2 separate regions of the Homo sapiens genome follow, and region 2 is linked to region 1. Evidence: fine-mapped expression QTL. A gene starts in region 1. The other region holds a variant in brackets. All regions are shown on one strand. Distances are from middle to middle. Region 1 holds the start of GRN (granulin precursor). Region 2 has its middle 15 kb from the start of RUNDC3A-AS1.

Region 1 (5,377 bases):
TAATGTCTGTTGAGCCTCTTGGGAGCCAGTTACAAGACTCTCCATTATTTTATATATATTTCTTTGCAACAACCATCCAAAGTAGTAATTAATACCTTTACTTTTATTTTATTTTTAGAGATGAGGTATTGCCATGTTGCCCAGGCTGGACTCAGACTCCTGGGATCAAGCAATCCTCCAACCTTGGCCTCCTACTAAGTAGCTGGGACTGTGGGAGCGTGCCACCACGTCTGCTCACCCCCTTTTTTTTTTTTTTTTTGAGACAGTCTTGCTCTGTTGCCCATGCTCGAGTTCAGTGGCACGATCTCAGCTCACTGCAACCTCTGCCTCCCAAGTTCAAGCAAGTAGCTGGGACTACAGGCGCTCGCCACCACGCCTGGCTAATTTTTGTATTTTTAGCAGAGAGGGGGTTTCACCATATTGGTCAGGCTGGTCTTGAACTCCTGACCTCAGCTGATCCACCCACCTCAGCCTCCCTAAGTGCTGGGATTACAGGCTTGAACCACCACACCCAGCCACACCTTTATTTTAAAGGAGGAAACTGAAGCTTAGAGATGTTAAGTACAGTCAGCCCTCCATATCCAACCAGGGATCAAAATATATTGGGCGCGGTGGCTAACGCCTGTAATCCCAGCACTTTGGGAGGCCCAGGTGGGCGGATCCCAAGGTCAGGAGTTCAAGACCAGCCTGACCAACGTGGTAAAACCCCATCTCTATTAAAAATACAAAAATTAGCCATGCGTGGTAGCGCACACCTGCAATCCCAGCTACTCAAGAGGCTGAGGCAGGAGAATCGCTTGAGCCCAGGAGGTGGAGGTTGCAGTGAGCAGAGATCACGCCAACATACTCCAGCCTGGGTGACAGAGTGAGACTGAGATTCTGTCTCAAAAAACAAAACAAAAAAACCCCTGAAAATGTTACATCGTTGCTGAGTTATACAATGTAGTTAGGCTTACGATGGGTGCATCTATACTGAACATCTACAGATAGTTCTTTCTTATTATTCCCTAAACAATTCAGGATCACAACTATTTACATGGCATTTCTTTTTCTTTTTCTCTTTTTTTTTTGAGATGGAGTCCTGCTCTGTCACCCAGGCTGTAGTACAGTGGCGCGATCTCAGCTTACTGCGAACTCCGCCTCCCAGGTTCAAGCAATTCTCCTGCCTCAGCCTCCCAAGTAGGTGGGATTATAGGTGTGCGCTACCACACCTGGCTAATTTTTGTATTTTTAGTAGAGATGGGGGTTTCACCATGTTGGTCAGGCTGGTCTCAAACTCCAGACCTCAGGTGATCCACCTGCCACGGCCTCCCAAAGTGGTGGGATTACAGGCATGAGCCACCACGCCCAGCCGACATGTCATTTCCATTGTATTAGGTATAAGTAATCTAGAAATGATTTAAAGTATGTATAGGTTATATGCAAATATTACACCATTTTATCTCAGGGGCTTGAGCACCCACAGATTTTGGGGTCCTGGAACCAGTTCCGTGAAGATACCAAGGGACACCTATAACACGTCACACATCAGGTCATGGTGACGTCAGGCTTTGATGGCCCCAGAGCGTATTGGACCTGGGTTCATATCACTAGTGGCACGATGGGCAGTGCCTGGGAATGGTGCAACAGGTACAACAGAAACAGGGTACAGGGACTGCCTGAAAATCGCACTTGGGTCCTAATCCTAGAATTGCCAACTGTGAGGGCCTGAGAAGTTGCTCTCTGTCTGTGCCTCAGTTACCCCACGAGTCTAGGTGTGGATACCACTGCGGGGGGAGGGGCAGGAAATCTCACCCACCCAGTCACTCACATCCTCTCTGCTCCACCTGGCTTTCCTCAAGTGCCCCTCCCCTAACTCAGCATCCCCAAGAGGCCACCTCCTGGACAGATAAGGATGAAGTTCACTGGTCCTGGACAGTGGACCCTCTCCTCAGCCCCACAGCTCCCAGGCAAAGCACCTGCAGCTGGCACCGCCTGCTTCCTGGGTGTTCTCAGCAGGCTGTCCGCTGCCATGGCTTGCTGGGAAGGGGAGTCTGTCTGCACAGGAGTGTTCGGCTCCCTGGTGAATTACCTGTGCATGTGGCCCCTCCTGTTTACCCTAAATTGAGGGAGTATAGTGTATGCTTCTACTGAATACAAGCACTCGCATACAGAAACAGGGATGAGGAGGCGAGTCGCAGTCTCTCATGCCACCCTACACCGCCAAAACAGCCAGAGGGGACAGCAGCCTCTTCAAGACCCTAGCTCCGTTATCTTCCACTAGGTGGCACCCCCCAACTCCGAGTGCCAAGGGGAGAGGAAATTCCCAAAAGGGGAGCCAACCTAGCTGCAAATGAGCAGGAAAAAGTGGCTGGGAGAGGCGGAAGCTAGCTCGTCCCACCCGCAACAAGAGGAAGTAAGGAGGAGCCAGACCAGGTTCAGTCACCACTCCCAAGTCCCTACTACCTTCGAGAAGCCAAGGTCTCAGGTCTCGTTCCCAGGCCCTCGGAGCTCCCAGCCCAGGGTCGCGCGCCCCTCCGGCTCCAGGCCGCCGCGGGAACCACCCACCACCACCAGGAGAGGGGAAGAAGCCAGCACCTACCGACAGGGGTGGAGCTGGGTCAAGAATGGTGTGGTCCCTGCTTTGGGGGAATGCTGGGGAGGTAGAAAGCCCCTTCTAACGGGGCGTCACTGCAATTACTGCTTCCTCTTTCCCATAAAACTCCCCCTAGTGTATCAGAACCCCCAAGGAGTTTCAGTAAGCGGTTCTTCTGTTGTCTCCGGCTGAGACTCCAGGGGAACCTCAAGCTCACATGGCCCTGGCGGGCCCCTGGGCAGGAGCAGGCGAGAGGTCTGCGCGGCCGCTCTCCTACCTGCGTCCGACTCCGCGGTCCTTGGGCAGCAGCAACCGGGTAGCGCTCAGACTACAGACCCCAGCGCGATGACCCGCCTACCTCAGTTTCCATTGGCCAGGGATCAGGGCTACCCGCTCCCATTGGCTACTTATCAATATAGAGGTGGGGCCAGCCTGGAATGCTGTGTTTCTTTTCTACTCAAATCACTCTCCTCCCTGCTTCCTCTCGCCCCACACCCCATTTCTAGGGATCATGTGATTGGAGAATCATGTGACGTCGGGACAGCCTCAGCAGGGCAGCTGGTGCTCGTCGCCTTCCTTAACCCATCCTGCAGGCGCCTGGGGGAGTTTGCTAGAGATGATAGCGCGTGTCTGGGGCATTGACAGTGCGAGGGAGTGTTATGAATTGGGAATATTTGTGCTCGCCTTTCTATCCTTTTGTTTGTTTGTTCTGAGACGGAGTCTCACTCTGTCGCCAGGCTGGAGTGCAGTGGCACGATCTCGGCTCACTGCAACCTCTGCCTCCCGGGTTCAAGCGATTCTCCTGCCTCAGCCTCCCGAGTAGCTGGGACTACAGGCGCGCACCACCACGCCCAGCTAATTTTTGTATTTTTAGTAGAGACGGGGTTTCACCATGTTGGCCAGGATGGTCTCGATTTCTTGACCTCGTGATCCGCCCACCTCGGCCTCCCAAAGTGCTAAGATTACAGGCATGAGCCACCGCGCCCGGACTTGTGTGTTTGTTTTAGAGACAGGGTCTCGCTCAGTCGCCCAAGCTGATCATAGCTCACTGCGGCCTGCAACTCCTGCTCCCAAAGCGATTCTCCTACCGCAGCCCCCCAAGGCGCTGGGATTACAAATGTGAGCTACTGAGCTGGCTCGCTCCTATCCTATCCTGCCCTGTCTTGTCCTGTCCTGTCCTGCCCTATTCTGCCCTATTCTCCAAACTCGGTTGACATGCTAGGCAGGCCCCAGAGTGAGTTGAAGGATGGTTTCCAGGACAAAGATAAACAGCCCCAAAGCCCTTTCCTCAAGGTGCTCAGCAGGACAGGGAGCAGGGATTGGTGGGAGACAGTCTCAGGCTGAATCTAATTTAAGATACAAGGTTGTGCGCCAGTTGCCAGGTGTAGGGAGAGGAAGTAGATTGTCTCCAGGTGGGGAAGAAGAGATTTCATTCCACCTTAGGAGCATCTCCTTGAGCTGAGTCTGGGAAGATTTTAACTGGCAGGTGGAGGAGGAGGTGTTGGGAAGAGCCCTGGGAAACCAGATGGGAAGGGCAGGCTTGGCAGGGATTGAATGCCATGTTCAATGCCAGTGGGCTTCAGGAGCTGCTGGGTGCCTGGCACGGGCTGGGCTGTGGTGGGGGCTGTCGAAAGAGAAGTGGCTTCCTAGTCTCCAGATCGGCCCTGCCTTCGAGGAATTGATATGGGAGGGTGAGGAGAGAAAATGTACCACAGAACAGATTAGCCAGTGACAAGAGTCAGCCTGCTTGGTGCCAAAGGGCCTGGGCCAGGCAGAGATGGATGATGGGAGATGGGCCAGGAGAGAGGAGAGGCCCAGGGAAAGCCTGATACTGGGCCGTGGAGGAACGGCAGTGTCTGCACAGGGGATGGAGACTGCTGCAGCCTGAGCAAGGAACTGGAGCTGAGGATGAGGCAGGGGCAGGGGGATGGCTAACCAAGCTCGAGGCAGCAGAAGTCGGAGGAGGGAAAGGGTGCCAACCGAGCTGTGGAGTCGTGTGGCAGGGGTTCTAAGCCTGGAGCTAGAGCAGACCCAGACAGCGGATAAGACACCTGGCCTGCTGAGGACCTAGTACTAGTCTGTGCCCTGGTGACACATTTGTGCTTATTTTCCTTCCTGTGTATCTTGAGACTAGGGAGTATAGTTTATGCTTCTATTGAAACACACACACACATGAAACTTTCATGAAATGTTAGGTGAATCGATCAATAACCTACTAATTACAACCACCCAGAACCAGAAAAAAATACAGGTAGAAGAAAAAAAACCTAAACAGACTGAAACAAATATCACAAAGTCTAATCGTCAAAGCCGTGATTCTTGAGCAGCGGCAATTTTGCCGGCCAGGGACATTTAGGAGTGTCTGGAGACAATCTGGGTTGTCACAACTCAGGGTGGAGGGACACTGGCATCTGGTAGGTAAGGGCCAGCAATCCCACTAAACATCACACGACACACAGAACAATCCCCCACAACAAAGAAGTATCCTGCCCAAAAGGTCAATAGTGCTGAGACTCAACAACCTACTTCACAAATGTTTCTCTCTCTCTCTCTCGCTCTTTTTTTTTTTTTTTTTAACATCAGAAGGGTAAGGTGCCACGATAACGAGGTCTGTAATTCCCTACTCAGGAGGCCGAGGCAGGAGAATCGCTTGAACCCGGGATGCAGAGGTTGCAGTAAACCGAGATCGTGCCACTGCATTCCAGCCTGGACAACAGAGCGAGACTCCATCCACCCCCGCCAACACAAAAAAATTAAAGTGTACAACTCAATGGTTTTTAGTGTCTTAAGAGAGTTATGCAG
Region 2 (5,377 bases), 52 kb after region 1:
AATGCCATGGCAAGTTTATATCATGGTAATTATCCTATTCTTCCCCCAAAGGTACTTACAGCTGCTTATCAGAGCAACTGCATCCTGGGGAAAGGGAAATACTCAGATCTTTCAAGGCTTTTGGATACAGAGTTGGAACTGACACTAATATTAAGGAACCAAAATGCCATCATGGGCATGTATTAGTGTGGGGCATATGGAGGCCAGGTGATGAAAGGAGATCTGGCCCATCAGTCTGCTTGATGGTTATTTCCCTGGCCCCTGAATACATAGTGGAATAGAGGTACTTAGTAGATAGCAGATCTCTCGCGTTGGTTTCCTGAAATAAGAGCCATTACCACACCTGTAATCCCAAGTGTGGAGGCCAAGGTGGGAGGATCACTTGAGCCCAGGAGTTTGAGAGCAGCCTGGGCAAAATAGTGAAACCTCATCTCTACAAAAAAATTTTTTTAAATTAGCTGGGTATCGTGGCACACTCCTGTAGTCCCAGCTACTCAGGACACTGAGGTGGGAGGATTGGTTAAGCCAGGGAGGTCAAGATTGCAGTGAGCTGAGATTGTACCACTGCACTCCACCCTGTGTGACATAATGAAACCATCTCCAAAAAAAAAAAGAATGAAATAAGAGTCATTAGGGTAGGAAAGGCCAATTAGAAATTGCTTCCTCATCTCCCTCCCAAGAGAGTTAATCAGAAGCAATGCCCCAGCCCAGGTGGAATGGCAGTGGTTGGAGTCACTCACAAAGGATATAAAAGTGGTGGTTCCCAGGATATCCCCATTTAATTCATCAATCTGGCTCTTGCAAAAACCAGATGGATCATTGTAGATGAGGGTGCACATAACCAAGTGGCGCCCTGATTGAGTGCTGTGCCAGATGTGTTAGCTTTCTTAGAACAGATCAACAGAGTCCCTGCCATTTAGTCCATGACTGTTAATTTGTTGAAGGAAGTAAGATTAGAAGCAGATTCCTGCCAGGCTCGGTGGCTCACGCCTGTAATACCAGCACTTTGGGAGGCCAAGGCAGGCAGATCACTTGAAGTCAGGAGTTTGAGACCAGCCTGACCAAGATGGTGAAACCCTGTCTCTACTAAAAATACAGGAATTAGCCAGACGTGGTGGTGGGTACCTGTAATCCCAGCTACTCAGGAGACTGAGGCACGAGAATCACTTGAACCCGGGAGAGGGAGGTTGCAGTGAGCCGAGATCGAGCCACTGTACTCTAGCGGGGGCAACATAGCGAGACTCAGTCTCAAAAAAAAAAGCCGATTCCTTTCCCTGAGGACAGACAAAAGTCCACATCCACAGTCTTACCCCAGGGCTATGTTAACTGTCCTGCTTTCTGTCATAATAGAGCAGAAACCTTGATCATCTTGGCATTCCACACAACATCACACAATCCATTGTACCGACGACATTGAGCTAATGGAACCTGGTGAACAGAAAGTGGCAAGGCACGTGCTTGCCAGAGGTTGGAGGATAAATCCTACAAAGACTCAAGGATCTTTGCAAAATTTGTCAGAGTCCAGTGAACTGGCACCACCATGTGTCTCCTATCCCTAGGAAAGATGCACAAAGCCTGGCAAGCCCCTTCAGATATGGGAGATGGCACATGCCACACTTGGAAATACTGCTCCAACTAATTTTCAGGGAACTCCGAAGGCTGCTGGTTTTGAGTGGGGCCCACAACAAGAGAGGTTTTTTTCAGTCCAGGCCAAAATGCAAAGTTCCCTGCCACTTGGGCTCATATAGCCTAGCAGATGCCATCTATCTATGATTCATAGGATGCTTTGGGGAGTCTCTGGCAAGCCCAGAAGGTTCTGGAGCAAGGCCATGCCATCTACAGCAGAGGACTGTTCCGGTTTTAAAAAATAATCTTCTGGCCGGGTGCATCGGCTCACACCTGTAATGCCAGCACTTTGGGAGGTCAAGGGATCACCTGAGGTCAGGAGTTCGAGACCAGCCTGGCCAACATGGTGAAACCCTGTCTACTAAAAATACAAAAATTAGTCAGGTGTGGTGGTGCACGCTTGTAGTCCCAGCTACTCGGGAGGCTGAGGCACGAGAATGGCGTGAACCCAGGAAGTGGAGGTTGCAGTGAGCCGAGATTGTGCCACTGCACTCCAGCCTGGGTAAGAGAACAAGTCTCTGTCTCAAAAAAAGAAGTCTTCGGTTGTGCTGCAGAGACCTGACCATTGGACAGGTATGGTGATGTGATCAGAGCTGCCCATTGCGAAGCGGGAACTGTCAGATACACCAAGTGACACAGTTGAGCAGGTGCAGCAATAATCCATCCTACCATGGAAATGGTGCATTCCAGATGAGGACTACTCAGCCTAAAGCGCACAAGTAAGTTACATGAACAGGCAGCCAGACCCCCAGGGCACGTATCCCTGTTGCAGCTATGTCTCTCCCTCAACTCACACCTTTGGCCTCATGGGGAGTTCTTTATCACCAGTTGACAGAGGAGGAAAAAAAGCCCCAGATCTAATTTACAGATAAAATGGCTTCCTAGGTTGGTGTGGACTGAAAATGAACTTCAGCCACATCACAGCCACAGTCAAGGGTGGCCCTGAAAGGCAGTGGTGAGGGGAAACCCCCTTGATGACAGAGCTGCTGACATTAGCACCTGGTCAGCAACATAAGGTGGAAGGAAAAGGGCTTTGAGCTAAGGATATACACAGATTACTAGGTAGAGGCCAGAGTCTTGTCTGATAGGTCAGAGACCTAGAAGGAGCAAGGCTGGAAGATCTGAGACGGGTTTTTGTGAGGGGAGGACAAATGGATGGATTTGCTGGAGTGAGCACAAAGTTTGCACTATGTCTCTATTGGTACCCCACGGTGAGCATCCTTTGCAGAAGGGGTACTAAGCAACCGGGCGGACAAGATAGCCTGGTCAGTAGATGTCCTTCAGCTTCTTTTTATTTTTATTTATTTATTTATTTTTGAGACAGGACCTCGCTCTGTTGCCCAGGAGTGCAATGGAGTGATCATGGTTCACTGCAGCCTTGACCTCCCTGGGCTCAGATGATCCTCCCACCTCAGCCTCCCAACTAGCTGGGACAACAGGCACACACCACCGTGTCTGGCTAATTGTGTGTGTGTGTGTGTGTGTGTGTGTGTGTGTGTGTGTG[TGC/C]AGAGACAGGGTTTTGCTATGTTGCCCAGGCTGGTCTCGAACTCCTGGGCTCAAGCGAGCTTCCTGCCTTGGCCTCCCAAAGTGCTGGGATTATAGGTATGAGCCACCGCACCCGGGAGACAGAGCTTGCAGTGACCTGAGATTGCGCCATTGCACTCCAGCCTGGGTGGCAGAGCAAGATTCTGTCTCAAAAAAAAAAAGCTACAGTATCTACTTGGAACTAATGGTCATTATATGGTGCTGTGTCTGCTATAGCTAGAATACATGGTTCCAGGAACCTAGGAATAGAAGTTGGAGTGATCCCCCTCACCATCCTTCCCAGGAACCCACTGGGAAATATATGTTTCTCACCCACACTACTTTTTTTTTTTTTTTTTAATTTTGTAGAGACAAGGTCTCACTATGGTGCACAGGCTGGTTTTAAACTCCTGGTATCAAACAATCCTCCTCCCTTGGCCTCCCAAAGTGCTGGGATCATAGGCATGAGCCACTGAGCCCTGCCTTTTAAAAAAAAAAAAATAGAGAGGGACAGCTGCTTGCTGTGTTGCCCAGGCTGAACTGCAGTGGCTATTTACCAGCAGGATTATCACACAAAACAGTCTTGAACTCCTGGGCTCAAGTGATCCTCCTGTCTCAGCCTCCGGAGTAGCTGGGACTACAGGTGTGCACCACGGTGTCCAGCTTTACCTCCTGCCACTTTATACTTTGGTAGACTAGTGATCATGATTGGTGATCCTGATTCCCAAGGGTAGGTGAAGGGAATGCTTCTACCAGGCCACTCAGTAAGGATTCCACTAAAACTGAAGCTATGGCTGCCTTATGATCGTTTTGAGCTCCTCGGGCCAGTAGATCAGCAGACAAAATAAAAAGAAGCTACTCTCCTGGCAGGGTAATCAACCCTGATTATCATGAGGAGACAGGGTTGCTGCTATATAATGGGTGCAGAAAGAATAAATCTAGACCTCAGGGGATTGACTGGTCACCTCGTGTTGACTCCATGAGTGATGATAACTGAATGGGCAACTGCAGCAAAACCATGATCTGAATGGATATGGAAACCAGGGGCTCAGACCCATCAGGAATACCCCCTGAAGCAGCATCATTCACCATAGCCAAAAAGTGGAGACAACCCAAAAGTCCATCAGCTGATGAATGGACCAACAAAATGTATTATATGCATACAATGGAATATTATTCAGCAATAAAAAGGAATGAAATACTGATACATGCTACAACATGGATGACCTTGAAAATATCATGGTTAGTGAAAGAAGCCAGCCACCAAAAAACCTATATTGTATGATTTTTTTTTTTTTTTTTGAGATGGAGTTTTGTTCTTGTTGCCCAGGCTGGAGTGCAGTGGCACAGTCTCTGCTCACTGTAATGTCCGCCTCCCAGGTTCAAGCGATTCTCCTGCCTCAGCCTCCCAAGTAGCTGGAAGTACAGGCTCCTATCACTATGCCCAGCTAATTTTTGTATTTTTAGTAGAGACGGGTTTCACCATGTTGGCCAGCCTGGTCTCGAACTCCTGACCGCAGGTGATCTGCTCACCTCAGCCTCCCAAAGTGCTGGGATTACAGGCATGACCCACAGCGCCCAGCCTATATTGTATGATTTTATTTACATGAAATGTCTAGAATAGGCAAATCTATAGAGACAGAAACAATATTAATGGTTGCCTAGGGCTGGAGGGAGGAATGAGGAGTGATGGCTGATGGGCATGGAATTTCTTTTTGGAGTGATGGAAATACTCTAAACTTAGAATGTAGTGGTTGTAGAACTCGGGGAGTAATAAAAGCCACTGAATTGTGCACTTTAAATGGGTGAATTTTATGGCATGTGAATTATACTTCAATAAAGATGTTACAAAGGAAACTTATAACAGTATACTTCCATTTCTTCTGTCCCTGACTTTGAATATTGTTGTTAGACATTTTACTGTAGTTGGTATATTCATGCATATTAATGAGATTGGCTATTTTTTCAGATGCTTATTGAGCCAGGTGAGGTGATGTGAGCCTATAGTCCCAGCTACTTGGGAGGCTGAAGCAGGAGGATTGCTTGAGGCCCGTCCTGGACTGTAGTGCGCTATGCAGATCGGGTGTCCACACTAAGTTCAGCATCGATATAGTGACCTCCCAGGAGTGGGGGACCAACAGGTTGCCTAAGGTGGAGTGAACCAGCCCAGGGTGGAAAGGGAGGAGGTCAAACCTCCCATGCTGATCAGTAGTGGGATCACGCCTGT

What was found.
Region 2: its variant is fine-mapped to the expression of GRN in whole blood (INTERVAL, PIP above 0.99).

What each region holds. Positions count from the first base shown.
Region 1 is chr17:44,342,810-44,348,186 of GRCh38, reverse strand. GRN (granulin precursor) reads right to left here and starts at 2,885. Exons shown (of 13, transcript NM_002087.4): 1 at 2,853-2,885. RefSeq lists enhancers at 2,613-2,762, 3,914-4,839.
Region 2 is chr17:44,290,905-44,296,281 of GRCh38, reverse strand. It overlaps the pseudogene RN7SL507P. Among named protein-coding and RNA genes, the nearest start is that of RUNDC3A-AS1, 15 kb to the left of the region's middle. The variant TGC/C (reference allele first, on the strand shown) is at 3,131.